Homo sapiens: one gene and its partners. The protein of the gene in region 4 interacts with the protein of the main gene of each other region in a pairwise test. Each region holds a gene or a part of one and is shown on either strand. Other genes may lie near its edges.

Evidence for each region.
Region 1: the proteins of MAD1L1 (region 4) and CIMIP4 interact in binary tests that used the Homo sapiens proteins (3 or more experiments, as listed by UniProt).
Region 2: the proteins of MAD1L1 (region 4) and LENG1 interact in binary tests that used the Homo sapiens proteins (3 or more experiments, as listed by UniProt).
Region 3: the proteins of MAD1L1 (region 4) and TSHZ3 interact in binary tests that used the Homo sapiens proteins (3 or more experiments, as listed by UniProt).

Annotation. Positions count from the first base shown.
Region 1 is NC_000022.11:37,004,847-37,012,688, forward strand, and holds the start of CIMIP4 (ciliary microtubule inner protein 4), read right to left. Parts: upstream 3,006-7,842; 5' UTR 2,883-3,005; intron 2,811-2,882; exon of another isoform or gene 2,626-2,810; intron 1-2,625. Other genes in the region: TST (thiosulfate sulfurtransferase), read right to left, coding at 6,181-6,479.
Region 2 is NC_000019.10:54,156,719-54,163,947, forward strand, and holds the start of LENG1 (leukocyte receptor cluster member 1), read right to left. Parts: upstream 3,004-7,229; 5' UTR 2,978-3,003; coding exon 2,846-2,977; intron 1,744-2,845; coding exon 1,564-1,743; intron 308-1,563; coding exon 45-307; intron 1-44. Other genes in the region: voltage-gated chloride channel TMC4, read right to left, coding at 3,588-3,656, 3,749-3,827, 4,160-4,315, 4,412-4,542, 5,384-5,567, 5,955-6,052, 6,315-6,441, 7,006-7,169.
Region 3 is NC_000019.10:31,346,429-31,353,607, forward strand, and holds the start of TSHZ3 (teashirt homolog 3), read right to left. Parts: upstream 3,009-7,179; 5' UTR 2,792-3,008; coding exon 2,752-2,791; intron 2,490-2,751; exon of another isoform or gene 1-2,489. UniProt on the Homo sapiens protein: Transcriptional regulator involved in developmental processes. Functions in association with APBB1, SET and HDAC factors as a transcriptional repressor, that inhibits the expression of CASP4.
Region 4 is NC_000007.14:2,229,942-2,237,020, forward strand, and holds the start of MAD1L1 (mitotic spindle assembly checkpoint protein MAD1), read right to left. Parts: upstream 3,005-7,079; 5' UTR 2,931-3,004; intron 824-2,930; exon of another isoform or gene 787-823; 5' UTR 608-786; intron 203-607; 5' UTR 193-202; coding exon 43-192; intron 1-42. Other genes in the region: MRM2 (rRNA methyltransferase 2, mitochondrial), read right to left, coding at 5,181-5,623. UniProt on the Homo sapiens protein: Component of the spindle-assembly checkpoint that prevents the onset of anaphase until all chromosomes are properly aligned at the metaphase plate.

The DNA of each region.
Region 1 (7,842 bases), on a different chromosome or scaffold from region 4:
CTGGCTAATTTTTGTATTTTTAGTAGAGACAGGGTTTCACCATGTTGGCCAGGCTGATCTCTAACTCCTGGCCTCAAGTGATCCACCCGCCTCAGCCTCCCAAAGTGCTGGGATTACAGGTGTGAGCCACCGTGCCCGGCCTGTGACTTCGGTTTTGTTTGCTCTCTTTCCCTGGTTCTCCTTGGTTTGCTCATTCTGATGACAGCAAATGCCGTGTTTTGAGCTGCCCTGTGGAGCAGCCCATGGAGCAAGAAACTGAGGGTGACTTCTGGCCAAAAGCTCATAAAGAATAGAAGCCCTGAGTCCAACAGTCTTTGAAGAACTGAATGAATCCTGACACCTGAATGAGCTTGAAAGTGGATCCTTCCCCAGTTGAGCCTTGATATGAGAACACAGCCTGGATGACACTTTCATTACAGCCTGTGGGATACCCTGGGCCAGAGGACCCAGCCAAGTGAGCATCCTGACTCCTATAAGTTCTGAGATCATAAATTTGTACTGTTTTAAACATACAGTGTCAAACTTCTAAGCTTTATGGTCATTTGTTACGCAGCAATACATAGCTAATACATATTTTGGTACTAACAGTGGGGTGTTGCTATAACAAATACTTAAAAATTTGGGACTGAACTTGGAACCAAGCGGTGGTCAGAGTCTATAAGGATTTTGAGAAGCATGATAGAAAAAGCCTAAATCACCTTAAACAGTTTTTTTTTTTTTTTAAGCAGAAATCTGGAGTTGGAAGATGCAGTGAGTGAGGGCCCAAATGGAAGTGAGGAATATATTACTAGAAATAGTGGAAGAAAGACCCTTGTTATGTAGTGGCAGAAACAGTGACACTGTCATCTGCAGTTATGTGACTAATGAACTGAATGATTTAGCTAAAGAGTTCCAAAGAAAAGATGGTAGTTGCCTCTTACTTTCTTCTTGCTGCTTGTAGTGAAATGTGAGAGGAAGGTGATGAATTGAAGAAGGGACTGTTAAACAAAAAGATGCCAGTACTTAATGGTTCTGAAGTCTCATCCTTTCCAGATCCCAAAAGATGCTAAAATTAAGAAATAGCTTCAGAAGGCTGTCTGGAAAGTGTGCCCAGGAGTGTGACTGTGCGACCTGTTGTTAAAACTTCAGAAAGATCAAAGGATGAGGGTATTACTCTGTCAAACAAAGGGTGCTTTAAAGAGATTAAAGAGATGCCTGATATATCCTCTTAACAGAACCATAGGACCTCTAGGAAGCTTAAGGCTCCTCAACAGGAGCCTCAGTTAAAAAGGGGTGTGACTTTTGTTCAATGGAGTGAACCCCTGTAAGTTTTACTGTTGAGAAAATAACATCAGCAAAATGTTGGCAACTTCGGGTAAAAGGGATAGAGACAGTACAAAATGAAAAGATACCATTGAACAAAAAATAAAAATAAAAAAGACAAGTCAGAGAGTGGATGCAAGAGTCCAGAAGGCAGAGCTGAGAGCCATGGAGAATTATCCCCAGGCCTTGAAACCTAATCAAGGAATGTCCAACATTTGTGTGGCTGGATTTCAAAACCGCTATGGAACATTGACTCCATGTCTCCATTTTCCTCAATTTTGAATAGGAATGTCACTAGTTCTTATCCTATGCCTATCACATCACTGTATGTTAGGTGTGTTCAGGGCAAATTACTTAGTTTCACAGATCTATGATGGGGAAGAATTGAATCTGAGAAGCTGTACTTAAGGAACGACACTGGAGGAGCCTCAGCCACACCTGGAGCTGATTTATATGACCAGATTCTAGCTTTTAAACTGATGCTTTAATAGGATGAGAATTTTAAAGATCTTAGGAGGGGATGACTATATTTTGCATGTGGAAGGGATGTACATTATTGGGGGCCAGAGGGCAGAGAGTGGCAGGCAGTTGACATGGCTCCCAATGATCCCTGTTTCTTGGTATAATTCTCTCCCCTTTGGTGTGGACTGGACATAGTGATGAATGGAATGTGGCAAAAATGAGGGATGTTGCATCCATGATGAACTTATAAGAGACTACAACTTCTGTCTTTTTCACACACTCTCTGCAGCTCTCCTCAGCTCATCTTCTCTGACAGAAGCCAGTTTCCCTGTTGTGAGATGCCCTATGGAGAGGTCCACAGGGCAAGGAACTCAGAGTGGCCTCTTGCCAACAGCTCCAGAGTAGCTGGATCCTGCCATGTGAATGGGTTCCTTCTCTGGTCGAGCTTTGAGATGAGACTAGAGACCCAAGCAACACCTTGATTGCAGCCTGTGAGAGACCCTGGGACAGAAAAATCACCAACACTCCACCGGTATTCCCAACTCACAGAAACTGTGAGATAGTAAATGTTGTCTTAAGCCCACTAAGTTTTGGGGTGATTTGTTGTGCAGCAAGAGATAACTAACACAAGTCCATGTCAAGCATTCTCACATCTGGTAAATTAGTCTGGTCTTCACAAATACCCAGTAAGGTGTTCGGAGACACTACTAATTTATCTTCTTTCACAGATGGAGAAAATGAGGCTCCGAAAAGACACAGGACTTCACCAGGTGGGGCTAAAATTAAATTGCACATCTTCAAGCTAGGTGAAGTTCAAGTTAGCTCCAAGTTTTCTTTCTCCTCCTATCCCCAGCCACCAACCTGACGTGCCCACGGCAGCTCTGTACGTCCCAGTGCACTGCCAGTCCACAGCAGTCTGGACGGGCTACAATGGAAGTGTGGACTCACTTCCAGTTTCTGACCCAGAGAGAGAGATCCCAAGAGACTTTGGTCAAAGAGGGCGGGAAGGTAAGTCCAGTCTAGGCAGTCTTCACTCACAAGCAACTCTGAATGGGGAGAAGGAAGATGAAACCCCATGTCCTGGAAGAACCCTGGCCCTTCATAAGTCTCTGCCTCACCTCTCCAATCTCTTTCATAACAGCAGGAAACACGTGAACCACACTGATGTGTGCTGAAGCCCAGAAGTGCAGATCCCCACTGCAGAACTACTGGTGAAGACCAATGGATGGTTGCTGGGAAGTGGCCCTCCCCAAGATGTTCATTGGAGTTGCCATGGTGATCACTATACACAGGGCTCTGTTACCTCAGAGGGCTGATAGGCCCACCCGTAGGGAAAAGAGGCCAGGAGAAAGCCAGGATTGAGGCCAGGAAAAGGCAGGAGGGGCTTCAATTATTGTTCACTCTCTCATCCACTCTAGAATGTCAGTTGAGCCCCCACTACATGCCAGGTGTGCCAGGCACAGGGGGCTCAGATGCTACCAAGTGCAAAAGATGTTCTTGGGAGCTCAAAGCACTAAGTAGGGAGAAGAACTAGCTCTGTGTAGGAAAAAGGAGGAAGGACTTATGAAAGAGCCATTTGAGTTGGATCTTGAAGGATGCCTAGGAACTTAACAGTTTTGAAGGGATGAGAATATTAAAGGCATGGATGTGTATAACAGCATAAATGTAGGTCGAGGTCAATGGGGAAGGAGAAAGATGCATCTGGAGCTGTCTGATTTGGACACCCAGGGATCAGGGACCTGGGAGTAAAACTAAAGGAAGGGTCCTCTCTCCTATTCCTAAACAACAAGGGCTACAGAAGGAGATCAACAAAATTAAGTGACTTCTTTTCTGCAGAGAAGAAGGAGGCAGAAGTCATTGGTGCCAGCACTGGCCCATTCCTGTCTGGCTGTTGCTCAGCCTGGACAAAGAGTGGGTATAGTGAACGCCTCCTGCAAGCCCAGCCTTTCAGGATTTCCCCAGGAAACAGAGAGTGCTGTGGTTAAACTTGGAGTCCCCAGAATCTGGGCCTGTCACTTATTAGATAAGAGACTGGCCAAGTCCTTTAGCTGAACTTCCTTCACATGTGAAACAGATATCACCCAACACTAAGGATAAGGGTGATGGGCGAATAAAACAATTTTTTGCAAAATGTAGCACATTGCCTTGCACAGAGAGAGACATCACAAAACTCTAAGCTACTTCCGCAAGCAACCCATCAGCAAGTCCTTCGAAGTACACTAGATTTGGATGCCTTCGTCCACCTCCACAACTCCCCCTACTCCCTGGTCCAAGCCACCCTCATCTCTTGCCTAAGTATTATCTATTGCTGCACGACAATCTTGCCATAAACTTCGAAGCTTAACATACAACTGTTATCTCACAGTTTCTTTGGGTCGGGTGTCTACTCATGGCTTAGCTGAGTTCTCTGCATTGGGGTCTTAGCAGGCTACAATCCAAGTATTGGCCAGGGCTGCAGTCTCATCTGAGGTTCCACTAGGGAAGAATATGCTTCCAAGCTCATGTGGCTGTGGGAGGATTCAGTTCCTTGCAGTCTGTTAGACTGAGGGTCTCAGGCTCTCTCTGGCTGTCAGCCAGAGGCCATCCTCAGTTCCTTGCTATGTGGGCCCCCCAACACCAACATGACACTGACTTCATCAAAGCCAGCAAAGAGGGAGTCCCCTTGCAAGATGGGGCATTACAATGTTGTGTACCATAGTCACAGAAGTGGCATCCATCACCTTTGCCGTAGGCTGTTGGTTAAAAGCAAGTCACGGGTCCCACCCGCAGTGAAAGGGAGAGGGTCACACGGGGCATGAACACGAGGGGGCAGATAATATGGGGACCACCCTGGAGTCCACCATATCCTCTGACAGTCTTCTCACTCAACAGCCCAGCAATCCTGTTAAGACCTATATTAGATCATATGTCACCCCTCTAAACAAAACCTTCCAGCTCAACCACAGTAAAAGCTGACATCCTCCCATTTATCTGCAAGGCCCTACCCAACCTGTCCACCATTTTTCTCTGACCTCTGCTCCTCTCACTTTCCCAAGTGCTCCCTGGGTCCCTGCCATGCCAGGCTCTGCTGTTTTTTGGGCACACCAAGCACAGTCCCTCCTCGGGGCCTTTGCACGGGCTGTTCCCTCTCCTCTCCTGCAACTTCCTTCCCCCACATGCCTACATGGCTTGCCTCTTCACCTCCTTCAAGACTCTGCTCACCTTCCCAGACCACCTTTTCTTAAAAAGCATCCCAGCCCACCCCACACTCCCTACTCCTATTTTCCAACCTTTTCTACCATTGCACCTTATTGCCATCTGACATACTGTGTATATTTGCTTCTTCTTCCCACAGTAGGATCTGAGCCACATGTGAGCTGGGAAGAGGACTGTTTTGTTAGTGGCATGGAAGTGAGAGGGGTCAACCCTCCAGACTACCAGTCCCACCACTACAGGTCCCACCGGCCTCAGCATTCAGCCCCATCACCCAACCTGCCAGCCCCAAAACCAACCTCCTCAGCATCTCCTGAGCACCTATTTGCCCCAATGCCAAGCCAAGGACAGACTTGGTCTCCGGCCCTCCAGGATCCTGTCTTCACTGGGAAGGCTGGATAGTGGGGAGCCGGTAGTCCCCAGTAGGTGGGGCCCGGAATTCTTCTTGCAACCCCAAAGGAGGTCTAAGAGAGGCTGTTTCTGGGAAACTTGAAATCCAGCCACATGGGGCCAAGCTATCAGGTTGCTTTCTTCTACTGTGGCTTCCTGATTCACCTGCCAGAGCCTGGACCTTCTCCCAGGGCCAAAGCTCTTTCTCCAGCCCCTCCCTCCACTGCTCCCCAGGGGGTCTTACTCTGAGCCAGAAAAGGTGCTCGAGACAGAGGCCACCTTCCTTTCACCTGCTCCTGAGCATGGCCTCTTCTGAGAGGCCCTGGGTCTGTGTGACACCTCTATGGACATATTGGGAAAGCCAGCTGTCCCTCCGCCCCTACCCAGGAGGCTGGGGCTACAGCAGCTGGGGCTTCAGCTCTCTGGCTTTCTGGTTCCCTTCCCACCTGTCTTCCTGGTAGGACCCAGCATGCTCTGGGACAGAGTCCACCTGACATGGGACAGCAGGAGGCTGTTTCTGCCAAAACTGGGTGAAAGTGGTGTCCTCGGTATGGCTTCCCCAGCCAGAGGGGCTATGGTGGTCTCTGTCCTTGGTGGAGTCTCCGGAGTTTGAAAGAGATGGAAGTTTGGGGGCAAGGATGGAGCCCAGAGAGAGGCAGGCAAACACACTACTCAGAAAAGGCAAAGTTTATTCCAGTGTTGACAGAGAGAGGGTGAGCCTTGCACAGCAATTCTAAAAACATGTCATCTCCTTCACCTAAGAGGTAAGAACCGGCTGTAAGTCATGGGGTCACTAAACCGGCCGCAGTTACAGTAAGCAGAAGAGGTCACGGCTCAGGCCTTCTCAGACTTTCCCTGGGACACACGGCTCTCTGGGGGGGCCCGGCGAAACCACTCGGACCAGGAGCCATCGTACACGGCCACATCAGGCTTGCCGCAGAGGTAGGCAGCCAAGGCCACGTGGCAGGCGGTGACTCCCTTGCGGCACGTGGCAATGAGAGGCTGCGAGAGATCCACCTTCTTGGTCTGGAACAGAGCACGGAGCTCTTCTGGGCCCTTCTCGAAGCCATCCTCAGTCAGGAAGTCCATGAAAGGCATGTTGACGGCACCACGGATATGGCCCGAGTCCAGTCCTGGGCAGGGCAGAGGACACAGCTTAGGGGATGTATGAGGGGTGGGGACTAATGGGGCCTGGAGGATTCCATCAGCTATAGCTGGAAGGATAGATAGCTTTGCAAATAAAAATAACATCTTTGCTCTGCTTGGAGCTCAATTTATTCCCAGCCCCACCTATTATCATTTCTCATGACTTAAGATGCCTGCAACTCCTCTCCTAACACCTGTCTTGAAGTAGAGATGCCCAAAATCACACCTGCTTGAGAAGACAGCGGCATGAGTCTCAGCTCCACTAACCTTTACCTTGGGCAAATCATTTCACTTCTCTGAACCTCAGTTTTCTCATCTGTAAAATGGGCTCAGTGGTACATACCTATCTCACAGCCATGTTGAGAAGAGCAAATGGGACAACTTATTGCAAATGCTATGTGCTGAGAACACAGCGGTGAAAGGCAGAGACACAGCCAGGCCCTCTGGGAGATTCCAGTCTAACAAGAAAGGCAGATGCTAAACAGATAACCACATAACTAATCAGATATGTCCCCATTTTACAGATGAATCCGCTGAGTCTTGGCAAAACAACACGGCTCACCTAAGGCCACACAGAAAGATGAAGGCAGACCCAGGATTACATCGGGGCCTCTGGTTTTCTGTTAAGCACACAGTTGCAGAAAGAGCAAGTGACCTGGTGTCAGATGTGAGGTCAAATCCCACTGGAGCAAGTTATGTCAGCTCTCTGAGCCTCAGTTTCTCCATAGGAAAAATGGAAATGAGAGTATCCACTGTGTATTGGCTGCTGCACGAAGCGGGTGGCACAAGGAAAGCGCTGGCTTTGGAGGCTGGCCCACCCACCCTGCCATGCTGCGCCCCCAGCCACTTCACCACCCATGGAGGGGGTAGGGGGAGAATAGGGACAGTGTGGGCCTTTTTGGTCCCCTCCAAGAACTTGGATGGAAGCAGAGTGGAGGGACTCGGCTGGCTCTAGAGTCCTTTCTGGAACTGTCTCAGTACCCAGTGAGGGCCCTCGGCCAAATCTGGCTTCAGAAGAGCCAGGAATTGGGGCAAAGGGGAAAGCCATGGCCAGAGCTGGTGCCACCCACAGGGTGAGGCCACAGGCCAATCTCACACATGCCCCAGGCCACTCCTGTCTTCCTCGAGCAGCCCACACCCTGGCAGGGGTGGGGGCTCTATGGTTGGCCCCACTCCCAGTGCCCAACCTGCACTTTGGCCTGACACAGGCCTATCTCCATCTCTTTGAGCCCTCCTTGCTCCCCAAATCCCCACCCCCATTCAACCTGGATTATGGGACAGGGCAGGAGCAGGGTGGCAGGAGTGGGAGGGGAAGGATCTGACTAGTGTGGCCAAGGCATATACTGGGGC
Region 2 (7,229 bases), on a different chromosome or scaffold from region 4:
CCTGAAGGTCTGGGCCCTGGTCTGCCGAGGTGGGGTCTTCTTACTCCTTGGGTCGCTGCTTCTCAGACCCCTCCTTTTCCTTTCTGCTGCGACTGCCTTCATCACCGCCGTGCTGTCTCTTCTTCCCCAGATGCTTCTGCATCTCCCGCAGAGGGTCCAGACGGCTCTTGATCTTCTCATCTGGGGCTGGGCCGGGCGGGGGGCCCCCTCGCCCTGGGGGTAGCTGGTACCAAGGGGGTTGAGTCTGTGCCTCCGCTGCACTCTGGCCCAGGTATGTCAGGATGCCCAGAGCTTTCTCTTGCCTCTCCTGAGGGGGCCAGGAAATACAAGAGATGTGATATAATCTTTCAAGGTGTCAGGTGTGTCTCCCTGACACAGGTATCTAAGCGAACAGGTATCTAAGGCTTGTTATGAACCAGTTGGACCAGGTGCTGGGGATGGAAGACAAACAGAGGCAAAGCTCCCCCTGGGGGGACAGTAGCAGGTACAGTAACAGCAGGGGAAGGAGGGGACAAGTGGAGCCACTTGAGTGTTCAGAGGCAGGCATCTTTGCAGAGAGACTTGAAGAGAAGCCTGAAGGGATCAAGCAAAGCAGAGGAGCGATGGGTGGGGTCAGCAAGTCCAGAGACAGCAGATAAATGACAAGAGCTGATGTACCTCTTTTTTTTGAGATGGAGTCTCGCTCTGTTGCCCAGACTCGAGTGCAGTGGCACGATCTCGGCTCACTGCAACCTCTGCTTCCCAGGTTCAAGCAATCCTCCTACCTCAGCCCCCCGAGTAGCTGGGATTACAGGCACACACCACCATGCCCAGCTAATTTTTGTATTTTTAGTAGAGACGGGGTTTTGCCATGTTTGGCCAGGCTGGTCTTGAACTTCTGACCTCAGGTGATCCACCCACGTTGGCCTCCCAAAGTGCTGGGATTACAGGCGTGAGCCACCATGCACAGCCACTGATGTACCTTTTACACTTGATCTTAGCCAAAAAGCAAGAGGCGATTGATTCACTTTTTGTTTGATTGTTTTGAGATGGGGTCTCGCTCTGTCACCCAGGCTGGAGTGCAGTGGCGCAATCTCGGCTTACTGCAGCTTCCACCTCCTGGGTCAAGCGATTCTCCTGCTTCAGCCTCCCTGGGATTACAGGCGCGCACCACCATGCCCGGCTAATTTTTTTTGTATTTTTAGAGATACCATGTTGACCAGGCTGGTCTTGAACTCCTGACCTCAGGTGATCCACCCGCCTCAGCCTCCCAAGGTGGTGGGATTACAGGCGTGAGCCACAGCCGGCTGATTTAAATTTTTAAAAGCCCATCAGGTTTGAGACTCCTCCAGTTTGGAGAACTGAGCGGTTTGCCCAGCAGCTGGGGACCTCTAGCATCTACCTCCAACCCCTGTGGGCGCCCAGACGGCAATAGCCAACGCTTTTTGAGTGTCATGCCTTGGTATGGTCCTAAATTCTGTGTGTTCACTCTTGTTTGACCTTGGTCACAACCAATGGCTAAAGTGCCCCCTCCCTCCAACTCGATTCATGGCCCCTCTGATGAAGTGGGTGAGGCCAGCTTACTTTCTCCTGTCGCTTTTCTTCCTTGTACTCTTTATTGCCTCTGATCACTCCTTTCCCTTCCTCCAGCAGCTCCCGAAACAGGTCCACAGGGCCAGAACCTGGGGCTCCCGCCTCTGCTGCTTCAAGCTCAGGCAGTGAGTTCTGATGTCTGGCTTTCTTCCGTAGGAATTCTGTACGGGCCTGGGGAGAAAGTTATAGGCAGGACATTCAGAACCTAGAGGTAATTCAAGAACTGTGAGTCTGGTGCCCACCACAGAAAATGGCAGTCCAGGGTGCTGGGGTTATGAGAAAGGGAGCACTAGGCGCCTAAAAGAGGCACCTGTCCTAGCTGGGGGTGAGGGTAGGCAGATGAGGCAACGCCTGGGTTTTGTAAACTCCCTTTCAAATAGTAAACCACGGGTCATCAAGGATGTATGGGAGGAGGTCCCTGGCCTAAACCAAAGGGGTTCCTAACCTCAAGTGAGACAATTAAAACAGCCATAAAGGTATGCATTAGGCCAGACGATCTGAATTCTAGCCATGGCTCCAAGTGACTACCCCAAGTCTGCTGAAGCCCTGTCCCCTGCCTTCAGGACGCGGATTTCAAACAGCGCTCAGCAGCCTACTGAGATTCTAAAAACCTAGACTACCTCCCACCCACGGCGGAGGATCAGACTAGCTAAGGAAATGAAAGTTGGGTGTACACCAAACAGATTTAAAGAGCCATACGGAAAGCCCGTGTTTGTGTGTATGTGTCTAGGGGGCGGTGCACGAAAGGGCTCGCCCGATGGCGTGGAGCCTGGCTGTCCGCCTCTCCTTAAAATGTGCCTTCCCCTCACTGAAGCCATCTCACTTCGTGCAACAGAGATGACAGTGCCCCTCTAAGAACGAACAGTGCTTATTGGGGATTCCGCAAGTCAGGTGCACGGCATGTAGTTAGCATACAGTAGATGCTCAATAAATAGGCTGTGCAGGCAAACTAAAAAGTGATCCGAATTTCCTTGAACTGTCCAAGGGTTCACGGATTCATTAAATGTTAAGCTTCTCTTTTGTGCTAGACACTGTTCCAGCCATGTGAAATACATCAGTGGGGGAAAAACTAAGACGAGGGCGAGATCAAGGAAGGTTTCGTGGAAGTGGGCACAAGGTTTGCGGGGCAACGTCCTCGAAAGTGGGATCGGCGCCTGGTCCCGAATTTCACACGGGGCACATTGAGCCTGCGCAACGCCTCCGCTTCCGGCCCCCAACCGCGGCGCCTGCGCGCTGGGCCCCGGAGCGCCGCCCTGCCGGCTTCCGAGCTTACCTCTTGCTGAGCCAGCAGCACCCTCCGCTCACGCTCCTTCTCCTCCTCCCGGGCCTGGGCCTCGTCACGCCGCACGCGGGCGACATTGTCCTTGTTCCGGACGTGCCAGCTCTTCTTGGGCAAGATATTCATGGCGTCGTAGCTGTCCAGGGACTGGCACGCCCGCCTCTTTGCACTTCCGATTGGCGAGAGGATGCCCCCCTTTTTCTTGTCCCTACTTCGACCGCGGATTGGTTCCGAATTAGTTGGTACGGCCCCCTGGCCTGTAGCGACAGGTGATTGGCTGAGACGCCCTTTATCACAGCGAATGCTAGGCGTTCGGCTCGTGGTATCCCCTAGCAACCGCCTCTTGTCACAGATCTGAACCAATCATAAGTTGGCCCGCCCCTGATGCTACCAGATGCGGCCGTCGATTGGCCGACATGACCGACAAGTCTCCTTGCGGAAGAGCGCTCTGCACCGACAAACATGCCCGTACATTTGATTGGCTCCTGCCCCGCTGTAGCCCTGCCCCCACCTTCAGGACGCAGATTTCAAAGCGCGCTCAGCAACCTCGGCTGTATTTATTGATACAAGGAAGATCACCCGAGAGTCAGGGACGTGGCGGCGAGGGGCCCTGGAAATCTCCAGATACCAAAGCTGGAAGGGCGTGGAGTCTTCTCCAGTTCTCCTAGTTTACAGATGTTGTGACCTAGGCTTACAATGGGCCTGGGGTCTGAAAGCGGGACGTGGGCTGCGGGGGTCAAAGAGCCGGTTTGGTGGAGGTCAGCGCCACAGCGCGCCGTGCCAGGAAGACTTTATTCTGCGCCTCCTGGGGCAAAGAGAGGTGGAGGTGAGACAATCCTCTTCCCCAACCCCTTTCCATGTTCCCCAGGGGCCCTCTCAGGGACCCGCCTGGCTCACCGTCTCTCTCTGACGTTTGAGCTCAGAGATGAGGCGTCCGTAGGAGTTAGCCAGAGCCACAGTGTACGCCATCAGGATGCTGAAGGAGACAGGAACGGAAGCCACTCCTGACACGCTCTTCCATTATATCCAAACGTCTGGCTCCTTCGAAGCCAGGGATGTGGACGCCTAAGCCCCTCCTCGTCTGGGCTCAAGGAGTTCAGTCTCCCAGCCCCTCCGCCTTCAGATCCAGGAGTCCTACGTCCCGCCCACCTCCTCCTTCGGACCCAGCAGTCCAGGAGCCTAGGCCTCCTCCCTCAGACTCAGTACGTTGCCTGCTCCCACGCCCAAGCCTCTCCTCTCTTGGACGCAGGTGGTGGCCCCCAGATCACACGCATTCAAACCCAGACCCAGAAGTCTGGGCCGTCTCACCTGGAGATCAGCAGAAGGGGCACAGCAAAAGCCTGGGTCCCCAGGAAGAAGAGGAAATTCTGGGTGGTCTCAGGGAGGCTGGAAATAGACTCAGGGATCTGGGCCCAGATGGACGACTGCCCCCGGAATGGACCACACAGCTTAGAAGGCGGGATCCTGAAGTCAAGACAGGCTGGGCTCACATAGTGCCAGGAGTCTGAACACTGAATGGGGAGAGAGGGAGGGAGAGAGGCGGGAGCCTCTCGCACTTACAGGAAGATGCTGTAAAGCAGGGGAACGCTGGAGATGGCCAGACCCAGGAGAAGGACCAAGGGGAAAAAGAAATTCGCCGCGGAGGCCCGGAAGGTGCGGGCAGCCGGGGAGCAGGTGGAGAAGAGGGTAAGCTGGTGGGGGAAGGCACGGAGAAAAGGGCTCTGAAACACAAGAGTCTGTGCCTCCATTTTTTTTTTTTTTTTTTTTTGAGACAGAGTCTCGCTCTGTCGCCCAGGCTTTTTTTTTTGAGACAGAGTCTCGCTCTGTCGCCCAGGCTGGAGTGCAGTGGCTCTCACTGCAGCCTCCCCTCCCGGGTTCAAGCTATTCTCGTGTCTCAGCCTCCCGAGTAGCTGGGATTACAGGTGTGCACCACCACTCCCGGCTAATTTGTTTTGCTGTTGTTGTTGTTTGTTTGTTTTCTCTTTTTGAGACGGAGTCTCGCTCTGTCGCCCAGGCTGGAGTGCAGTGGCACGATCTTGGCTCACTTCGACCTTCACCTCCCTGGTTCAAGCAATTCCCCTGCCTCAGCCTCCTGAGTAGCTGGGATTACAGGCGCCTGCCACTAAGCCCGGCTAATTTTTTTTGTATTTTTAGTAGAGACGGGGTTTTGCCATGTTAGCCAGGCTGGTCTCAAACTCCTGACCTCAGGTGATCCACCCGCCTTAGTCTCCCGAAGTGCTGGGATTACAGGCGTGAGCCACTGCACCCGGCCTACCTGCCTCTCCTTTTTTCCGAACCAGGAGTCTGAGCCCCTTCCTCATCTAGGACCCCGGAGTCTGAGTCCCCAGATCCTCAGACATATAAGTCAGAATGCCCTAGACCCCTCCTCTCAGATGCAGTAGTCTGTCCTCCAACCCCCTCCTCTCTCAGGACCGAGTAATCCAGGCCCCCAGGATCTTCCTTGCCCTTGACCCAGGAGTGCGGGCCCCAATACCTCCTGCCTCAGACCCAAGGGTCCCCCCTACCCCTTACCTTCTTCAGGTAGAAAAGCAGCAGGAACTTGACCGTGTTAAGCAGGGGCAGTAAAGGGCAGAAAAAACTCCCCACCCAGACCACCGTCTGCGCGTAGATGAGCCCCAGCACCTCGTCGGGCACCTGGAACTCTTGGGTCCCCGCCAGACGACCCAGCGCCCCAGGACAGAGGCCACAGAGGAGCCTGAAGGACGGGGCGGGGCCGGGCCGGAGTCAGGGGAGTGGCGGCCTGGAGTTTCCACGCCTCCACCGCCCCGCCCGCCAATAGGAAGCATGCGTATTGGTGGTGGGGGGGGGGGGGGCGGGACTTTCAGGACTCCACGTGGAGGGGGTGTGTCCAGAGGGCGGGTCCTGAGGACTAGAAGGGACCCAGATGTCGCCGCCGTCGGGGCCAGAGGGAAGTAACCCACTAAAACAAGGGCGGGGAGCGGGGAGATCTGCGGACCTAGGGCAAGCAAAGGGAGCAGGCAGAGGCGGGAATGGTAAAAAGGTGCGCGGTGAAAAGAACAGCGCGATGGGGCACGGCCTCGTCCTAGAGGGGCGGGGCCACAGCAAGGGGCGGGGCTCTCACTTTCTAGGAAACTGGATGAGCAGCGCGACTGCCAAGACAGTCAGCAGATCAAAGAGCAGAAGTTTGTACATTTCCTGGCCCAGGACAGTCTCCCAGCACTGAAGAAGGAAGAAATATATCAGAAAGAACTCGGGACCCGGGCACCTGGAGGCCCACGCGTCCGAGTCTCCACATCGCAAGCCTATGAGACCCTGTCAATACTTTCTCTGGGGGTCCTCGTTTTTCAAACTTTCATACCCTTGGGAGAGTGTTCCAGCACCCCAAGCTCCCCTCTCCGCCCAAACCAAGAGTCTGGACCCACCCAGCTCCATCTTTCCTTCAGGGACCCAAGAGTCCCACGCACACCCATGCCGTTCTCACCGGAAGTTGTTTGTAATTGTAGCCACAGGTTTTGCAGTCCTCAGCCTCGGAGTCGCCCCCACAAGTGATCTGATTCCAGAGAGAGAAGAGCAGGACCACCAGGGAGGCGAGGCGAAGAAACACGGTCCTGAAGGGGGGAAGGCAGAGAATGGGCCCTGACCCGGTACCCACCATGTGGCAGTTCCCTTCTCAGTGGAACGCGCCCGCATTCAACCCATCTCACAGATGAAGCTGAGGCCCAGTGACAGAATCAGGATTTCTTTCTTTCTTTCTTTCTTTTTTTTTTTTTTTTTTTTGAGACAGGGTCTCACTCTGTCACCCGGACTGGAGTGCAGTGGCGCGATCTCAGCTCACTGCAACCTCCACCTCCCAGGCTCGAGCCATTCTCCTGCCTCAGCCTCCCGAGTAGCTGGGACTACAGAAGCCACTACCGCCGGGCTAATATTCGTATTTTTACTACAGACGGGGTTTCATCATGTTTGTCAGGCTGGTCTCGAACTCCTGACCTCAGCCTCGGCCTCCCAAAGTGCTGGGATTACAGGTGTGAGCCACTGCACCTGGCCAACAGAGTCAGGATTTGAATCCCTGGATTCGGTATCAGCAGGATTTCCGTGTCTTACCTGTCAGCGCCAACATCCCTCTGACCGCCCCCACCCTTCATCATTCCCAGCCATCCCCGTGAGGCTGGAACCTGAGCAGGATAAAAACGATCTGGCGACTCCGAGTGTAGCCCTCCAGTGGAGCAATGAGCTTGAACACGGGCGGCAGCACAAAATTGACCCCAGCGATGAAGATGGACGGAAGGTAATTCACCCCAAGCTTCAGCAGTGGCAACTCCTGGACAAGGGGCATCTCCTGGGAGCGGGATGGACCATGAGTAGAGGCTTGGGGTCCTGGAGGAGCCAAGCTTAAGGT
Region 3 (7,179 bases), on a different chromosome or scaffold from region 4:
CGAGCTTGTCATCTCCAATCATTAAAGCTGTCAGGAATCCATCAGGTTTACAGCTAATTAGGTGAACACTAATGAAGCTGGCAAAACAACTTTTCTTTTTTTATGGCTGAGCGGACCTTTCAGTTTGGAGGGGAAAAAAATTCTCGAGTATTCTCAAGGTTGCTGGGGACTGGATTTCCAGTTACCAATCAGCAGACATCTTTCTTTTCCCCACTCTCTCTCTCTATCAGTACAAAGCAATCAATTTGTCATCACTCCCAGTATGCCACAAAAGCTGGCATGAACCTTATAACTTGCAGCTGGGAAAACTAAAAAAGAGGAGAAAAAAATGGGAAGTTTCTGGTCCATCCAAACAAACAAACCACCCCCAAAAAAAAAACCTCTGTGCATACTTATCACCAGCCTAAATGTGGAGTTTTTTTTTTTTCTCTCCACTCTTCTTAAATAAGTAGCTCTTCAGTCCGCCTCCACCCCCTCCTCCACATGTCCATTAGGCAGAGGCATTCTGATAAAGTAAATCCAAAACCCGAGTATGGGAAAGAAATAAAGCACTCATGCTGCCAGCTTCTGATTGACCATTAAGCTATTGATGAATGTGCCTGTCAGGAGAGAGACAATTAAATCAAATATGAAACAAAGTCGTTTTGACGGGTCATTTTGATAGAGCAAAACCATTCTTCCATCTCCTATTAGTCCTGCAGTCAAGTTTTTTATATAATGAATTTTTCTTAACTGACCTGAGATTTCCTGGCTGGCTTTCTTTAAAAAAAAAAAAAAAGTGTGAAAAGGTTAGTGAACAGGTTGCTCTAAAAATAAATAAATAAATAAATAAATAAAGCCAACAGCAGGTTCCCTCCTCCTCTGATATTTTTCTGGAGGAAGCTATCAAATACGAGTCTCAGATTGGCAGGGTGCAACCGAAGAGATGAACTAGAGAGAGAGTTCTGAACCAAATGTAAAGATGTAATCACATATGGTTCATTGGATGGAGGCACACACATACCTTAAAATGTGTATCCAAAAAGGAAAGAAAAAAAAAATTTCAAAGACTGGAAGAAGCCCAAGACATTCCTACTACTCAACTTTGTGAAGGATTCCTCCAAAGTTTCAGAGTTTATTTTGGGTAGATAAGCTCATTGCTTGAGCCTGGAATTTAAAGTAGAAGGTGGGACGGGCAAGAAGCAAGCTCCAGGAGGTTAACTAGGGAGGCGGCAAGCTCCCTACAATCACTCCTGGAATTTTCAAACTTTCTAAATTTGGGCAACACCGAGGACAGAGAGCAAAACCTGCATCCTAAGCCCCAAACCAACCCTGTTTTCTTCTGAGATTTTCTGAAGACACTGGCAGGCAAGTACATTTCTGGGAGAAGAGAGAATTATCATTCCTTCTCTGTGACCCCGTGTAAGGGGTCTGGAGTGCAGAGTGCAGCCAACGTGTGAGGTCCCCTGGCAGTGCCGGCTGGCATGATGGAAATTATGGGCACTCAGGGCACCATGGCTACAACGCCTTCCTCCAAGATGGGCACCAGCCAATGCCCTGACCCTACTCTCTGCCCTTCCCTCTTAACATCAAAAGAGAAGTAAAAGAAAGGAAGAGAAAAGAAAAGAAAGGAAGCCCCACTTAACCCTCCCCTTCAGGGAGCATCTGAACCTCTGCACATCTGAGTGTTACTCATATCAAAATACATCACGTCCATATGTGGTCCTCTCGGCAATCCGCCCCAAATCCCAAAGTTGCACTGACAGGGCCCTCCTGACGTCACAGAGCTTGGCCTCACTATTGCAAGTGATTTATTGATGTTTATTGGGAATGAATAGATCAAAGGCAGCAGCATGACGGGCGATCAATCAGTCATCAAATCAAGGATGGCAACGGGCCAGAAACCCTTCTTCCAGGCAACATGCCCCCAACCGACATTATTGCAAAATAATGTTATGTGTGTGGTTTTTGTTTTGTTTTCAATGATGCGTTTTCCAGAAAAGAAAAGAAAAAAATCGGCTCAGTCTTAACAGGAGTTGACACTCCCGGTTAAAGAAGAAGAAAAAAAAAAAAAAAGGAGGAACAAAAAAGTACTCAGACACGTCCCAGAACTAAGTGCTATGCGGAGATGAGGGTGGGAGCAGCAGTACAAGGAGGGGGTGGGGGCGAGGAAACACAAACAGGGGAGAAGGAAACGCCAGCATCTAACATGGACTTGACAGTCATCTGACAATACCCAGACCCTGTGCGCTCCGGGTTCCACCGCTGTGCCCAGTTTGGGCCCAAGAAATGAGGAATCAATCGTGTTAGTACTAAGGTGGCCGAGGGGACCGGCTCGCTCACTCGTTCGCGCTCCCTGGCTCGGCGGACACCAGGCAGTCCCCCGGCGGTCGGCCGCTCGGAGGACGCGGAAGATGTCCCGGGGAACTCAGGTGACCCCGCCCGCCACCCACAGAAAGAGCCAGGCCGGGGTTGCTTCCCATTCCCTCTGCAGCCGGAGAGCTGAGGAGGTAGGGACCTGGCGCGGCTCAGCGCGCTCCGCGAGCGGCTCCCCAAATGGGTGCGAGAGGGAAGAGGGCAGAGCGCGGCGGGGCGTCCGGGGGGCGCCCGGTACCCGAGGCGGGCGCACGCACCCAAACAGGAGAGCGGCGCCCGGAGTTACTCAGTGCGGGCAGAAGAGCGGGGCGAGGAGCGGGGTCGCGCCCGCTGGAGGCGCGGGGCGAGCGGAGGAAGAGGAGGAGGAGAGCAGAAGGAAGGGGAAGCGGCTCGTACCTGCTGCGCGCCGGGGCGCCTGCTGCTTCCTCCTCGGCATGATGCTTCTCCGGCGACTGCCACTGCCGCCGCCGCCGCCGCTGCCGGGCTGAGGACAGGGAGGGAGGGGGCGGCGGGCCCGCGGGGGGGCGAGGCGGGCCTGCTCTCAGCCTCCCCCCCGGAGAGCGGCCGCCCGCAGGATGCTGCTGCGCCCAGGCTCTCCGCGTCCCCCCCGCGCCGCGCTCCGCCGCGAACCCCGAACGTGCGGAGGGAAGAAGGAGGGCGGGCGAGGGAGGCTCGGGGAGGGAGGAGCACGGGGGGGAGGAGGAGGCAGAGGAGGAGGAGGTGGAGGAGGAGGAGGAGGACCGCGCTGCCGGCGGAATGGGAAGTTTGACAAATCGCTCCAGAGGCCAGAGGAGGAGGGGGCGGGGAGGAGCGGCGGCCCTGCCCCCCCCCGCCCCGTCCCCAGACGAGGTGCGCGGGGTTCGGGGCTGGGGGGCGGGGAGAGGGCGGGCAGAGCGGTGGGAGGAGGAGCGCGGGAGCGGCCCGGACCGGTACTGCCCCGGCCCCCGCCCCTAGGCCGGGGGTCACGGCATCCGGGGGGACGCGCAGCCGCCGCCGCGGCCCGGGGCTCGGCGGTCCAGTCTTCTGCCCGTGGCGCGGCTGGAGCGGCGGCGTCGGCAACAGGCAAGCTTAAAGGAAAAGGAGATGATCGTGTCAATCGCCCGCCCGCGGGGGCGCCGCGCCCCCGCCCCCGGCCCCAGGCCCGCGTGGGACCCCCGCCCCGCCAGCGAAAGGGGTGCCGCCCCTCCGCCTCCGCCCCGTGCGCACACGCGGGGGCGCGGCGCCAGCCCCGCCGAGCCCGTCCCGGGGCGCTCGTTACCCCCCACCCCTATTCCCACCCAGCGTTCGTCCCCAGCCACCCCCCAGCTGCCCCACCCGGCTCGCACTCCTCTCCACCCGCCGACTCCGGAGCCCCCAGCGTGGTCCCCGGGCCGGGGCTGGCGTCCCCCGGGGAAGCCAGAGCCCACGGGCAGGCCCCCTCCAGGGAGGAGGCGGGCGCGGGCCGGGGCGGGTGGGGGCAGCCCTCAGACCCCGCGCCACCCAGCTCCTCCCCCAGGACCCGCCGTAGCCACTTCCCCCAATTTTTTTTCCCCGGACAAACTTTCCTGGGCCCGTCCCGGGGGTCGGTGTGGGAGGGGGTTCCTTCAAGTTTCCTCTCCTGACTTTGGGATGATCAGGGTCCCTCCACCCCGCCCCTCGCCCCCGGGAGCCGGGCCGCGCCCCCCATCCACGGCGCGGGCCGATCCTAGGGCGGGACGGGGGCGGGAGAAGGAAACCGGGCTCCCCTGCCCATCCCCCGCCAGGGGCTCCCCCCGAGAGCCTAGGGGGCCGCCGCGCCGTGTCCCGCGCCCGGCCTGCCGGGGCTGCTGGACTAGAGGGATTGATTATTGATTGGTGATCGGGGTCGCTGAGGCTCCGGGCCGGCCCGGCCGACTGGCCGCGGCAAGAAGGAGCTGGCTGGGCGGCGTGGGCGGCGGGGCGACGCGGGCTCACTTACGGGCGGCGGTGAGGGCGCGGGTGGGCCGGAGCTCATGCGGGCGACCCCCGGGCGGCGGCGGCTGAGCGGGAGCCGGAGCCCGAGCGGCGCGGGCGGCGGCGCATCGATGCGCTGCGGGCTCGATTGCGTCTCCCTGGGCCAGCTCTCAGGCCGGGAATGGGGCGGCCGCGCCGGGGCCGGCTCCGGGCGCTGCCGGGCGGCGGCTGCTGGAGCGCGGGGGCGGCCTCCGGGCCCACTATCCCCGAGGCGGCCCTGCGCCCGGGCGCGCCGGCTGGGGCTCTGGCGCTCTCGCAGGCCCCGAGGCCGACAGTCCCGGCGAGGGCGGGCGCCCCGCGCTCCAGCACCGGCTGCCTGAGCGCTCCTGGAGCAGCAAACCCCAGACTTCTTCCTCCTTCTCTCCTTCCTTCCTTCCCCCTCCCCTTATCTTTTTCTTTTTTTAGTCTCTTTCTCCCTCTTTTTCTGCCCTGTGTCCTTTTTATTTTTTCTCTACGACTGTTTTTGCAAGTTTGTTTCAAAAGTTCACAGCATGCTTTCTTTTCTTTTAGACCGGGAGACAGTGATCTCACCCACACGGTAAGATCAAAAGTCTCCGCTCGCCCAGCCTGCGGGCTTGGGCTGGGTCCAGACGTCTCCCAGGATGCAGATGCGCCGCCGCTGGCCTCCCCGGCTATAAAGCCGCCTCCAGCGCCTTTCCGCGCGCAGGAGCGCTCGGAGTTGTGGGGTACGGACCCCAGGCGGGGCAGGGAGTCCGAGGCGGGCTGCGGCGGGGCTCTCGGGCTGGCGGACTCGGGGGCTGAGGCGCCGTGCGCGTTGGGTGCCCGCGGCCGCAGAGGCCAGAACCGCTACTCCTCCAGGCCGGGGAGACGCGGCCGTGGAGCGTGAAACGCTTCTTGCAAGCGAGGAAACGGTGAGTTGGCCGACACCGCCGGCGGCCTCACCATTCTGGTGGCCGCGCTGAGCTCCTGTCGCCTGGAGGCGGGTTGCGCCGCACGGGGTCAGCTCCCGCCGGCTCCCAGCTCACCTTCGAAGCTCCCACTTAGGCGCGCCCGGTGCGGCGTGTGCACAGCGCGGGGCGCCGCACACGGAAGCGTGTAGTTCTCCCTGGTCGCGCTTTTCTCCTCCTTTCCATCCCCTCGCTGTTCTTGCAAACCTCTGTTCCTTCGGCCCCCTCCCACTGCGGGCCGCGGCCTGAACTCGGGTCTCCGCGTAGCCGGCCGCCGCCGCTGGGTCGCTGCCTGGCCCTCCCCCGCTCAGGCGCCGAGCGCTGTGCGATCCGCCCTAACATCTGTCCGTCCAACCATTGGCGCATCCATCAGTGTCAATGGGCTGCACATTGCAGCGACAGCCCGCCACGCACAACACGGGCTATGCGGAGTGCACGCAGCAACCATACTGCCATGTCGGGACACGCAAAAAGGCCCCCGGCCTGGCTTGGCACAGCCTGAAGGCCTAATCTGTGTTCTTTCAGCCACATGTACCCACCCCCACTTAATATCTGGACCCCCAAACATGAATAGTTTTGCAGACCATTGTAGGGATGGAATTGAAGGAAGAGGGGCAGTGTCGCCCGAGTCATTATTTTCCACCAGGTTTTCTCTGCCCTTGTGTGGGCTGGGTGTGGCTAGGAGAGAAGGAAGGGAGACTTCCCAAATCCGCACCAAGCACACTGCAGAACCGGAAGCTACCTGGATGCAAGGGCTTAAACCCCCTTCACCTGGGCCTAGGATGTGTTGTCGAGGTCGCTGGCCAGGTTTTAGCCAGGAGGTCTCGCGCTAAAACTTTTTGGCCCCGCCTGGCTGCTGTGTGTGACATGGCCTGATGGAGAGGAGCTGGAGAGCGGAGGAAAACGTGGATCCCAGTGAGAACTAAGGGCCAGATTTAGGGAGAAATAGTGTCTGGATGGCAGTAAGTCTGTAATTCACATTTTGTTTACAAAGGGAGAAAGGGCAGGGCTGTAGGTTTGAGAAGCCAGAGGTTTGCGCGGAGTTCCGTGTGCCCATTCCCCGAGAGTGCCGCTCTTGGCTGTAGTTGTTTGTTCTACCTGATTTTGCCTCTTGCCTTCAACTCCCCCATAACCCCTCCCCAAATGTCCAGAGGGCAAACATATGCGCATACCTCCCTGATCAATCCAGCCAGACCAAAGGGCCTTCCCTGTCCTCCCCCTAAGAACTTAATGGGAAGAGTGTACGGGGGACCTACTCTTGGGACATCTGCAGGGCGGCTGTACCAGGCGTTTTACCTGACTTTATTCTTACCGCAAAGATTTCCGTCTCGGTACCTGGTGCCCCCTCAGAGTCCACTACACAAACGGGTAAAATCCCGCGCGGCTATTCATTTCGCCATTCGCGAGTAAGAAGGGGAAAAGGAGCCGCTTCTAGGAGAGCACTGAGGTATGCTCGGTTCGGTTCCCGAGGAGGCCAGAAGCGGCCGCGGCGGCGCGGGCTGGAGCTCCCTCCTGCAGGGAGACACCGCGCTCTAGGGTGCGGGCTTCGCCGCCCACATCCAGTGGTCGAACTGTTTTCACGCTAGACTAGAGGGCGGAAAAGTCTGCGCCCGCGGAGAAACTAGAATTCTGTAGAATGTACACTGTGTAGAAATCTTTTCACCCCACTCTTCAGAGTTGCAGATTATCTTTGAAAAACAACAGGCTCTGGCCCTGCCAGCCCTAGTAACTTCTACCCGCCTGAGTCACTCTGAAAAGTAAGCCCCTAGGCCAGTGAGATGTCCCCACCTTTGGGAGGTGCCGCCTTTCCGGGAACATTAAAAAAAAAACCCTAAAAATAGAAGGAGGAAAAATGAGCAAAGGCGGTGGGACGACTCACCGAAACACCGAGGTGCAAATGTCCATTGGAGAAACTGGCAGTCGCATGGCAGCCAGCTGGCTCACC
Region 4 (7,079 bases):
GTCTCCCCAGAGCAGACTCCCACCCAGGCACATGCCACTCACCTGCATGCTCTGCTGGTACTGCATCTGCAGAGAACCTGGGGCCGAGGTAGAAATATCCAGTCCAGAGCCTCCCTCCACACGCTGAGAGATGAAGTTGTTCAAAGATCTCAGGGTGGATAAAACCATGGTGTTTTCCCCCAGGTCTTCCATGGTTGCTTTCCTTCCGGGGACAGACAAAGGACTGGTCAGGGGCAGCCTTTCCACGTGCCATCAGCCGTGCAGTCAGCAGAGCCTCTGGACAGCCCCACTCCCCTAACGCACATTGGAGCTCATAATACACCCATGCCTGTAACCACATTCTTCAATGGCAACTGGGAGCCATGCTGCCAATTTACCAGACAAAAAATGGAAGCAAGGAAGCATGCCACCAAATCCCCACCAGCAAGCCACCAATTGAGTCTCAGTTGCACATGGACAGATGGACAGCTGGCGCCCGGGAGGCGGGGCTCAGCACTCAGGTGGCACGTCCCCCAACTGCACTGTAAGAGGGTTCTCCAGAGACACAGAGCCAACAGGACACAGAGACAGACACAAGAGAAGGGCTTTATTGGGGAAACTGACTCACGCGATTACAGAGACTGTCCCACAACAGGCCGTCTGCAAGTTGGAGCCCTGGAAGCCTGGCAGTGTGACACAGTCCAAGTCTGAAGGCCTCAGAGCCAGGGGTCCGATGGTGTAATTCTCAGTTCGAGGGGCTGCTGGGACAAGTCCTGGAGACCAAAGGCCGGCGAGCTTGGAGTGCTGCTGTTGAGGAGAGGAGAGGAAGAGTGTATCCCAGCTCCTGCAGGCAGATGGACACATTCGCCTTTTCTCTGTTTTTGTCCTCTCCAGGCCCCCAGGCTCTTAGATACTGCCCCTGACTCTGAGGATGGATCTTCAGCACCTGGTCCACTCAGACTCCCAAGCTCATCTCCTCTGGAAACACCCTCAACAGGCACACCCAAAACCAAAAATGATGCTTTCCCAGGTTTCTAGGAATTCCTGAATCCAGTCAGTTGATGCCTGAAACTACCTACCAGGAGCACTCACAGCAAAGTCTGGCCTCTTGCCCAGGCAGGGTGGTTCACGCCTCTAATCCCAGCACTTCGGGAGGCGGAGGCAGGTCCGGAGTTCAAGACCAGAATGGCCAACATGGCAAAACCCCACCTCTAATAAAATACAAAAACTAGCCGGGTGTGGTGGTGTGCGCCTGTAATCCCAGCTACTCAGGAGGCTGTGGCACAAGAATCGCTTGAAACTGGGAGGCAGAGGTTGCAGTGACCTGAGACCGCACCACTGCACTCCAGCCTGGGTAACGGGGTGAGACAGTGTCTCAAAATAAATAAATGAATGAATAAATAAATAAATAAACATAAGCCAGGCACTGTTGCTCATGCCTGTAATCCCAGCACTTTGTGAGGCCAAGATGGGCAGATCACCACAGGTCAGGAGTTCGAGACCAGCCTGGCCAACATGGTGAAACCCCATCTCTACTAAAGCCAGATGTGGTGGCGTGCACCTGTAATCCCAGCTACTCCGGAGGCTGGGACAGGAGATTTTCTTGAACCCAGGAGATGGAGGTTGCAGTGAACTGAGATCGCGCCACTGCATTCCAGCCTGGGTGCCAGAGCAAGACTCCGTTTCAAAAAATAATAATAATTAATTAAAAAAAAAATCTGGCCTCTGGGAATCAGAAACGAGGCATGCAACAGTGACAGTAAAGATGATGATCATCACAGCTGTGCTCATTTTCATTGTTTATTTCTAGTGACATTAATAAGTACTACTACTATTTTCAACTAGGTATCAGAAAGAAAGGTATCTGACATTTCCGAGCACCGAGACTTCTTGAACTTCAGTTTCCTCATCTGTAAACTCATGACAGTGAAATCTACTTGCAAAGTTGTGGGGAACGGGGCCAATATCCCTCAAGTCTTCCACCGCTAGATGATGGGAATACGGCTGCAGGTTGACCAGCACTATATTTGTAAGCTCAGTCTCAACAGGGTGGTGAATTAGGTCTTTTTACACAGATTCTAGAGATGATGAAACCGAAGCTTCAAAAAGTTACAGAACGGAGATTGGAACTTGGGTCTGTCTGGCTTTGGAAGGCTGAAGACAAACCGCAGTAAAGAACTTTGCACCCCCAACACCGGCGCTTACTATGGGCTCATGGCAGGCCGGCCCACCAGCCACAACTAGGGAACAGCCAAGCGCGTTTAAAAGCCAAAGGTAGAACTTCTGCAGCTGCACAGTTTCTGAGTTTCCATTTAACAAGAACCTTGGCCTGGTGCAAGCAGAGGCCTGAGCTCCCCAGGCTGCCAGCCCCGCAGAGGCAGGCCCGCCTGGAAGGAGGCTCCACAGCCCAATTCCTCCATTGCCCAAACGAGATCAGGGTGGCCCTTGCCATCCCCGAGGGGAAACCGGGCCCACACGCCCCCTTCCTGAGAGCGGACCGGCGCGAGCCACCAGGATGCCAAGAGCCCCTGCAGCCCCGACTTCTCCACCAGGCGCCAGCTCAGGCCCCTTCCTCGGCGCGCCGGCACCCTAGCCCGGGGACCCACACGGTAGGCAGCGGGACCCCGGGGCTGGGACCACGAGCACGCGCCCCTCGGCCGCCCGCCCTGGCACAAGGGACGGCTGCGGAGACCCAGGCGAGGGGCCCGCTGTCCCCAGCACAGCCCAAAGGGGGAGTGGGGACAGGGGAGTGGGGAGAGGAGGGGAGAGCACAGAGAGGAGAGCGCGCCCATGGGAGACGGGGCGGGCGCGGGGTCCTGAGGCACGGGGTCTGGGTCGTTGTGCCCCACCCTGGCGAGCACACCCGGTCCGGGCCCTCGGCCCCTCCCTTGCCATTCCCGGGACCCCCGGGACCCCGGGACCCCGCCGCCCGCGCGAGCCGGGCCGCTTACCTCAGCCGCTCGCAGCCAGCTTGCCGCCGCCGCTCGGATCTCCCTCCGCTCCGCCGGCGCCCATTTATCGCGACACTTGCGCCTGCGCTCTCGCGAGACCTGCGTGGCAATCGGGCCGTAAAGAACCGAGTCTGCGCACCGGCTGATCCTGGGGACTCCGCGTCCGCACCCGGAGCCGCCACCCCTGGGAGACTCCGCACGGAAAGGACTCGGAACCGAAGGCTGAGCCAAGGCGCAGTCGGGGGCCCCCCGGCTTTGCGCAGGACGCGCTTCCACTAAGGCTTTCGCCTCGCGCCGTAATGTGTGGAATAGCCGCGCCCACGGCAGCCTCCTCGGACAAACTTGCACCGTTGACTCTTCCCAAAATTTTGCTACTCAGTATCAGCTTGAATCAATCCGTTATTTTGCTTTTTTCTGGGCCCACTAGAAATGCAATTTATGCTACTAGGCTACCTTCCCAGTGCTCTGCAAGCCAGGGCACAGCATCCAATGGGGTGAGGTCAGGCCCCACCATTATTATGGTAACCTTTGTCTATCCTTCAAATTGGAGCCTTCCTGAGAAGAGTGTGCCTTACTCGTTTCCATATTCTCTTCCTCTCCTCCTCCCGTCTCTGCCCAGCCCCTGGCTTCCCTCTAAGAAGATGCTGTTCCTAAGGGTCTGCAATGAATTTTCCTTCTTTCAGAGAAAGACTTCCAAGTTGTGTGCCCCGGGAATGAAATGGAATAAGAGAACGAGGTGGAGTAGGGCAAGAGTCCCTGGACTTAACAACCTGACTGCAACCAGAAATAAAATGAAAAGTCAAAACATCTGGCGGCCGGGCGCGGTGGCTCACGCCTGTAATCCCAGCACTTTGGGAGGCCGAGGCAGGCGGATCACGAGGTCAGGAGATCGAGACCATCCTGGCTAACACGGTGAAACCCCGTCTCTACTGAAAATACAAAAAAAAAAAAAAAAAATAGCCGGGCGTGGTGATGGGCGCCTGTAGTCCCAGCTACTCGGGAGGCTGAGGCCGAATGGCGTGAACCCGGGAAGTGGAGCTTACAGTGAGCCAAGATCACTTCACTGCACTCCAGCCTGGGTGACAGAGTGAGATTCTGTTTCTCAAAGAAAAAAAAAAATCAAAACATCTGACCCGCAGTTTCCTTCGGGGAGCTGGACAGAGCCCCAGATTCCTGATGGAGATTCCTGGGTTTCCAGACTTCCCCCACTGGTCCTTGGAATTTAATCATAGTCAACAAACTCTTCTTGAGGGATGAGTACACCTCCAGGAAATGGCTTTGAGGAAGCCAGTTTAAAAAAAACAAAACTTCAAAGCATGAAAGTACCTTAAAATAATGCAATCTCTATTATTTTATTAAATATAAAGCTGCGTCAAGTTCCTAGATGAGTAAAAGAAAATAAACACACCACATCACTGCTTGCTTTGGCAATTACATTTATGTTCTTGGGAGCCCAGACACTGATATAAATTTCCAGCAAAAACCAAAGCAGACCCACTGCCTGGATAAATTCAGACCATACGTCTTCCCTAATTGTTCCGGGAACTTTTGCTGCTTGAAGAATGCGTGAATTGCTATATTGTTCACCAGAAAGACAGAAGTTAATCCCCAGATGGAAATTTCAGATTTTTCTTTTGGTTTGCTTTTTGGTTTTTCATTTTTGTAGACATGGGGGGTGTTGCTATGTTGCCCAGGTTGGTCTTGAACTCCTGACTTCAAGCAATCCCCCAGCCTCAGCCTTCTAAAGCCCTGGGTTTACAGGCATGAGTGGCCTCACCCAGCCCCCAGATTTTCTACTTTAAACAGCCACACTAAGAACTGGAAATCTGTGCGTGGTGCTCTCAGAGCAGGGGTGGAAAGCCTGTTTGTGTGTGACAGTTTAACAGTCTATAAGATGAAGTCCCGTCAAGGCACACATGGGCACACCCATCCCTGCCTCGGCGGATTCCTTCTGATCCTTCCCACAGTCTGTTTTTCTCCATCCTTCCATCCTCACCTCTTTCTCTTGATAACTTTCTCTTCCCAAATCACAATATAGCGGACTTTTTCATTTTCCATGGCCCCTGAACTTAGTTTTGTCATCTCTTTTTGGTTAAAAAGAGAGAGAGAGAAAGAGAGAGAGAGACTCCCCACTTGTCCTGCTCCATCTCCAAAATCAGCTCAAATCTCCCAGGAACTCTTCAGGAGCTCAGGCTACGTTTCTAGCTTAAAAGGAGCTAATGACCATTATGAAAATGGCACAAGAAATCCTCACTGCTTCACAGTGCCCTTCCTTCCGTGGTACTGTGTGGCCAAGAAGTACACTTCTGATGACTCTTTCCTGCTGGCTTCAGGTTTGATGATCCTTACATTCTGGAATTCCTCTGTCAGTCTCCTCTGTAACCGACGGCTTTGACTTCCAGCCCAGGTTTTACAAAGGAATGTCCCCCCAGGTTGCAGGATGTCTGGGGTCACGCTGAGAAGGGTCAGGCACAGGCTGATGAGCCTGTCATGATCGAGGTCCCGGAACCCTGTGGCATTGGGCGCCATGTCGCTCAGAATCACATCTGCTCTCCTGCCAGGAAGCACCTCGAGGATTCTCTGTGAGGTTCTCGGGTCAGTCACGTCAGCAGGGCACAGAAAAGTTGCTCCTTCCAGGGGGAATATGTGAAGAAGATCTACCCCAAGCACGAAGCCAACAGGAGAGCTGGGATCTATGGAAGAAATGGTGAATGTGTTATTTATTTACACCCTGAATCTTTTTACAAAAATACAGTACATGCAACAAAGTGATGAAATAAAAATAAAATGTCAAGACCAAGGCAAAGAGCTAATGTGCAAATAGGTAAACACAGGCCTTCTCTATCTATACATCCTATAAAGACACATGGTGGAGATGGCGGGCCTTAACATCTGAGAAGCTGAGGCCCAGACAGGAAGTGACTGTCCTAGAGTCATCCTCAGCCATGGGCAGACCTGTGCCAGGCATCAGGACTTCTGATTCCAAATCTGGTATCATTTCACTACCCAAGGCTCACTCTCTGTGAAAGGGTTCTTATCTCTGAGTGCTCTTTTTGATAAACTAAAATAGAAAATAGGCCAGTCCCAGTGGCTCACACCTATAATCCCAGCACTTTGGGAGGCTGACACGGGTGGATCACCTGAGGTCAGGACTTCGAGACCAGCCTGGCCAACATGGGGAAACCCCATCTCTACTAAAAATACAAAAATTAGGCAGGCGTGGTGGCACGTGCCTGTAATCCCAGCTACTCGGGAGGCTAAGATAGGAGAATCGCTTGAACCCGGGAAGCGGAGGTTGCAGTGAGCCAAGATCGCACCACTGCACTCCAGCCTTGGCGACAGAGCGAGACTCGATCTCAAAAGAAAAAGAAAAAGAAAAAGAAAATAATAAACTAGTACATAAAGTGCCTCTGGATTAAATCAAGAAATCCATTCTCCAGCTTAATCCAATTGCTTTCAATGTAGAAACTACTGGAAACAAGTCAAGAGATGAGGAAAATGAACAGATATAAAATAACGTACAAAAACTGATATCGGCTAGGTGTGGTGGCTTACACCTAAAATCCCAGCACTTTGGGAGGCTGAAGCAAGAGGATTACTTGAGCCCAGGAGTTCTAGTCCAGCCTGGGCAACATAGCAAGATCCTGTCTCTACAAAAAAATATAAAAATTAGCTGTAGTCTCAGCTACTCAGGAGACCCAGCTAAAATGAGGCGTGAGGCGTCCCATTTTCCTGGGGTGAAGACTGAGGGGTTTCGCCTTTGAAAAATGAGGTAATCTTCAAAATACCTGGACTTCCAATGTTTACACTAGGAATGAAACACGGTCCCTTTCTCTCCCCCTACCGTTGGAACAGCCTTTCTGTTAAGCAGACTGAACAAGAAAATCTGTGACTGTACCCTTAGCTTATCAACTCTGACAATTTCTCAACAGAACTACGGCCCTCCTCAGTGGAGGGGACTGTTGGGGAGATGGGGGCGTTGGGCTTGTGAAGAGGGGGCTTTGAATGTAGGTACAGAGTGAGAAGAGGGGGAGGCAGATGCTGAGATCAGTTATAGGCAACAAGTCTTGTTTTACGTAAGGTGACACAAAGGCATCTTTTTAGTTTTAGCAAACTGGTGTTACTCAAATATCAGCAAGTTATCTTTGT